Regions from separate parts of the Homo sapiens genome. Here region 2 is linked to region 1. Evidence: fine-mapped expression QTL. A gene starts in region 1. The other region holds a variant in brackets. All regions are shown on one strand. Distances are between the middles of the regions.

Region 1 (2,906 bases):
AGATCACAGGATCTTGAAGTAAGCACAGTGTTTGGCATACAGTAGGCGCTCATCAATGCTGGTTCCTTTCACTCTCTGCCACTTGCTGGCTATGTGTGACTTAACCTCCCAATGCCTCCGTTTCTTCATTTTGAAGTGAAAGATGATGCCTATCCTCAACTTCAGACGAGATCCGGCACGTTCAGGGTGGTATGGCCGTAGACCCCAACTTCAAAACAACAGGCACACCCATTCAATTCAGGTAGCACCCTCCAAATGTGCCATGGGCTTAAGAGGCAGGAAGAGAGCCTGGTATGAGCCCACGGCTTCGGCTCCTGTTGCTCACTCTCTGCAGATCCTTGTGCAGTTCTCTGGGGTCACTTGCTGGTCTTTTTGAGTTTCAGTTTTCTTATTTGTAAGCTGGGGATGGTCATATCTCATTAGATTTTTTGGAGGACTAAATGGGACAATAAATATAAAACGCTCAGTACAAAACTTAGTCTATGGTCAGTGTTCAACAAATACTAGTCACTGGTAATAGTAGAACCACCTGCATTATGACACTATTATTTCTAGGCTCTTATGAGGATTCTCATTTACCAGGCATACTAGCCCTGCAAAACGGACACTATTGCTTCCATTATACAGATGAGGAAACTGAGGCTCAGAGAAGCTAAGTAACTTCTTCAAGGTTGCCCAGGCTGGGCGCAGTGGCTCATGCCTGTAATCCCAGCACTTGGGAGGCCGAGGAGGGCAGATTACTTGAGGGGAGGAGTTTGAGGACAGCCTGGCCAACATGACAAAACCCCGTCAATAAAAAATATAAAAATCAGCCAGGCGTGGTGGCACATGCCCGTAGTCCCAGCTACTCAGGAGGCTGAGGCAGGAGAATCGCTTGAACCAGGGAGGCAGGACTTGAGCATGCCACTGCACTCCAGCCTGGGCAATAGAGCAAGACTCTGTCTCAAAAACAACAAAACAAAACCAAACCAAAAAAAGGTTGCCCGGTTGCCCAGTGACAGAGCCAAGTCTTGCTTTCCAAGCTTGGGCTCACTCTCCTACACTAACTACCTGGCCCCATGCTGCCCAGTCCTGGGCTAGCTGCAGGAGGCTGCCGCATTACCCACCTCAAGCCACACAAGCACTGGCAGTAACAAGAGGCCGTAGAGAACCTAGAGTTCTCCAGCGGATGTGGTTCTCTGGCTGCCGTGGGCTGCCAGGGATCCCTTAGATCGCGGACTCCACAGTTCTTTCTTGCCACCTCCAGAAGGAGGCTGCAGCCCCATGAGCCAGGCAGCAGGAAGGGAGGAAGTCTCGCTTCTTGCCAGACACATTGTTTAACTGCAACAGTCAGTCCTCCAAAAACTCTGCCGGAAGTCCACCCCAGAAACTCAAGGGAGGAAACTGACTGCCTTCTTGGGGTTTTCTTAACTGTGCTTTTTCTGCTCTGCAGGAAAGATGCAACCTGGGCCAGAGGCCCCTGGAGGTTGTGCCTGAACCCAGACAGATCACACAAACCTGAGCAGCCATTAGCCGCTGTGTGGGCTCCTTTGCACTGTGGGGCTGCTCCTGGGGTAAGTGTGTGTCTTTGTGTGTGTGTGGGGTTCGGGGGCTGGGATGGCTGACTTACAAAGGACACGCTGTGGCCCAGCCCTGGGCAGCATCCAGCCTGCTTAGGTGGCCTTCTGTGGGCTTGGCCAAAAACACTGAGGCCTTTCTCTGTTTCACCTTCTTGTGCCAACTTGGCTGTGTGTGAACAAAGAATCACAAGCACACACCTGAGTTCACACTTGTGTAAAATTGGACTGAAGAGCTTGGTGAATCAAAGTTCAAGAAGGGTGACTTGGCCGGGCATGGTGGCTCAGTCCTGTAATCCTAGCACTTTGGGAGGCTGAGGGGGAGCAGATCACTTGAACCCAGGAGTTCAAGACCAGCTTGGGCAACACAGAAAGACCCTGTCTCTACAAAAAAATTTAAAAATTAGCTAGGTGTAGTGAGGTGTGCCTATATTCCCAGCTACTCTGGAGGCTGAGGTGGGAGGACTGCTTGAGCCTGGGAGGTTGAGGCTGCAGTGAGCTGTGATCATTCCATTGCACTCCAGCTTGGGTGACAGAGTGGGACCCCATCTCTTAAATTTAAAAAAGAGAAAGGAGAAGGAGAAGGAGGAGAAGGAGAAGGAGGAGGAGAGGGAGAGGAGAAGAAGAAGGAAGAGGAGGAGGAGGCGGGGGGGAGGGGGAGGAGGAGAAGAAGGAGAAGGGAGGAGATGGAGAAGGAGGGCACCTCAGAAGCCCTCAATAAAAACAGGGAGGAAGAGAACAAACACATCAAAGCTGCTGAGTCTGGTGCCAAGAGCAGGGGACTTAAAAGCTGTGTGACTTTGTCATTTGAGTTAACCTCTCTGATCCTCAACTTCTTGTTTGTGAAGTAGGAATAAGATTTTTTTGTGAGTTTGTTCTGAGGCTCATTAGTAACGTACGTAAAGCTGTTGGCTCCTGGTCTCTCTTATCATTCAGGGTTAAGCTTCGAAGTGGGCACAGGTGCTGGCAGCTATGGAATGGTGGGGAGGTTGCAGGGTGGGTCCCCTGGTCACAGAGAGCTTCTCACTGCCAGGGCTCAGAAGCCCCCTCACTGAGAGGCCTCACTGCCAGGGTTCAGAGCTCCCTCACTGGAGAGGGACTTCTTGAGTGTTGCAAGCTACATGGACAGACCATCTATGAGATCAAGCGTCCAGGCCCCTGGGCCAAGCAAATCTTGGGCCAAGATTGTGTGGCTTTAGGGGACATTATGGAGCCTCTGAGGGCCTCAGCTCCTCCTCTGTGAACTGGGGACTGTGGTGGTGATAATGGTACCTACGCATACAGAGATTGACAAGTACTGCTGAAACACAGCTAGGGATGTCTGTCTCACATCAAAAGGCTTTCAAACAG
Region 2 (2,906 bases), 19 kb after region 1:
TCCTACCTTGCTATGTTACAATTTTCTAACTAACCAGAGCCTGTCCCCTCAGATGAATGTGTGGGAGGGAGAATAGCCCGAGTGAGGAGGCCCTCCCAGCATTCCTGACCAGCTGGGGATCCTGGCGGGACGGATCCTCCACAGGAGCGTTTTTCTAGGGTGTGTTCTATGGAACGCTGGACCTGTGATGTGCTCCGGGAATAAAAGGTTCAGAGGTTGCTTTTGGGAAATGCCGCTTCCTACAAACCTGTCTGTCCCTGTTGTAGCTTCACGGTACACCCTGCAGCACGAAATGTGAATTGTAAAACAGTAAAAACAAAACATTAACAGCGGGGGACATTCCTCTGCTGACCCCAAAGTTCAGCAGGTGCGGGACAGGGGAGGGGCGGGCTCTCTTGTCTGCATCAGGCTTGGGGAGCCATCTCCGCCTCGGGGCTCGCAGACAGGGCTTCTCTGCCAAAGCAGCACCTCGGGGCGTGTTCTCCCACCCATCTGTGTTCAGGCATCCCTTCCCTCGCATCTGGATTTTGTTTAGGCCTATTTGCAATTCCTTAAAAAAAATCTAAGAAATAGTTGGAGCCTGAAAGAGAGCTGGCCAATGAAACGCCCCGTTGGGGCATTACCGCATCGGTGAGTGGCTGCCCTGAGGCGATGGCTGCGTTTCCGGGGCACCGCCGTGCGCCGGTGCCCACGCGTACCAGGCTTCAGGGGAGCACTCGGGAAGCGCGGGGGGTCGCGTGCCCTTGGCCGGAGGCCTGGTCGCCCGCTGGCCTCGCCATTCTCGGCTCCGCTGCTGTTGCCTGCGCGCCTGTGGCGGAGCAAGCCTGCCTCCAGGGCAGCCTCACTGCCGGGATCCTGGGCAGACCTCCCACGTGATAACCGTGATCACGGTGTTGATGCTCACTCTGGGGCAAGGGTGCTCACGTGTTCTCGTAATTGGGCGGAGTAGCCCTTCCTTCAAAGTCAGCCCCGGTCCCCTTGCACTGTGCAGCCCCTCTCTGCCGGACCCTGCCCGCATTAAATCTCCCCTTAACCTCTAAAATGCTCATTGCCAGCGCCCTTCGTTTGGTATTTGTAGCAGATACTGTCTCCTGCTGTAGCGCCATGTCTGTTCCCCCTTTCTACCATGATATAAAACCTCCTGATTTTTAGCTGGGCGCATGGTTCTGGAATCATGACTATGTTCCCAATTCCCTTGCAACTAGATGTGACTAAGTTCTGGCCAATGGGATGGTCATGTTCTACTTCCAGGAAGTGTCCCTAAAATAAGGGAATATGTCTTTTTAGGTCCCTTCCTCTCTCCAGCTGTCTGGAATGGAGCTACCATGTCTGGTGCCCAAGCAGCCAGCTCTGACCCAGAGTTAACATATTATGGATTGTGGAGCCACAGGATGGAGTAGCCTGGGTCTGATGGTTCTGTTAGTCAAGGCTAGTCAAAGAAGCAGGACCAACAGGAAATACATATGTTTATGTATGTATATGTTATGTATATGCTATGTATACACATACACACACACACAGATACACAGAGAGAGAGAGAGTTAAGAAAGTGGATC[A/G]TGTGATTGTGGGGCTGGCAAGTTCAAAATCTGCAGACCCACAGAAGAGCTGATGTTGCAGCTCAAGTCTGAAGGCAATTTGGAGGCAGAATTCCCACTTCTTCAGGGGACCTCAGTCTTTTCTCTTAAAGCCTTTTACTGATTGAATGAGGCCCACCCACATTATGAAGGGTCATTTGCTTTACTCAAAGTTTACTGATTTAAATGTTAATCACATAAAAAAAACCTTCACATCAATGCTGGTGGGTGATTGAAGGTGGTAAGCAAGGAGTGCCAAGGTCAAATTTGGATTTCAGAAAAATCTCTCTGAAACCAGTGATGGGTAGAGGAGAGTGAGATTGCAATCAGAGAGTCCGGTTAAGGGTTGATGTATAAAGATAGGTAGAAGATAGATACAAAGGGACAGTGGATGGTGGGAAGAGGAGAACTGAACAGCACATTGGCAGGAGGAATAAGGAAGAGGGAAAACCGAGGGAAAATCCCAAGTGTCTCATTTGAGAGGCTTAGGGGGATGATGATGTCACCAACTAAAGTCGAGAATGCAGCTGATTTCCCCTTTTGTGGTGGTGAGCCTGGTGCAGCATGAAACAATTCATTTGCTTTTAGGCATGTTGAGTTTTATCTGCCTTTGAGACATCCACACAGGGATTCCAGCAGGCAGTCTGATATGCTAGCATGGAGCTCAAGTCTGGTTGGAATCCAGATTTCTATGTCTGTTTCCATCCAGCAATTAAATTTCCAAGAGCAGTGAACCTTCCCATCACACTTGCATGTCTCGGTCCTAGATCTTCCAAACACGCATGACTATTTGCTTTTGTTTTCCTTTTTGGCCATGTTATCCCAATAAGATCAATTTCAGAAAGGATGTAGGCACCATTGAGGACCCCTTGCTGCACGATAAAGACCCAACTGTAATTCATAACAGACATGAATCGTATTCTACTGTTCTGGGGGTCTAATTTTTTTTTTTAATTCAGAATCTTTGAATCTCTCCCCCAAAGACCTAAGACTAGCTTGAATGTTAGAAGGATCTGTCTCTGGGCTGTATGGAGAAGTGTGGCTGCTATATGAGAGCAGATTCTCATGGAAAAAACATTTTTCCCCCATGGAATTTTCTTCCATGAGTCTAAACCCATCCTGGCTCAGGGCCCTCCCAGTCTCCTGCACTGAGCAAGCAGGTAGGGAGAGAGAAAAGAGGGGTGGTCTGGAGTTTTAGGATCTGCATTTGAATCTCTCCTCTTGATTTGTGACCCTGGGCAAGGCTCTGCCAATCTCTTGTTACCTAGCACCTGGTCTATGCCAGGTCCCAGAGCTTTTTGGGTTCTATCTGGGCCTCAGCATCCACATTGG

What was found.
Region 2: its variant is fine-mapped to the expression of LINC00539 in whole blood (TOPMed, PIP above 0.99).

The regions. Positions count from the first base shown.
Region 1 is chr13:21,343,313-21,346,218 of GRCh38, reverse strand. LINC00539 (long intergenic non-protein coding RNA 539) reads left to right here and starts at 1,360. Exons shown (of 3, transcript NR_103841.1): 1 at 1,360-1,553. It also overlaps the pseudogene MIPEPP3.
Region 2 is chr13:21,324,197-21,327,102 of GRCh38, reverse strand. All of the region lies in intron 2 of LINC00539 (long intergenic non-protein coding RNA 539), which reads left to right. It also overlaps the pseudogene MIPEPP3. Among named protein-coding and RNA genes, the nearest start is that of LINC00539, 19 kb to the left of the region's middle. The variant A/G (reference allele first, on the strand shown) is at 1,557.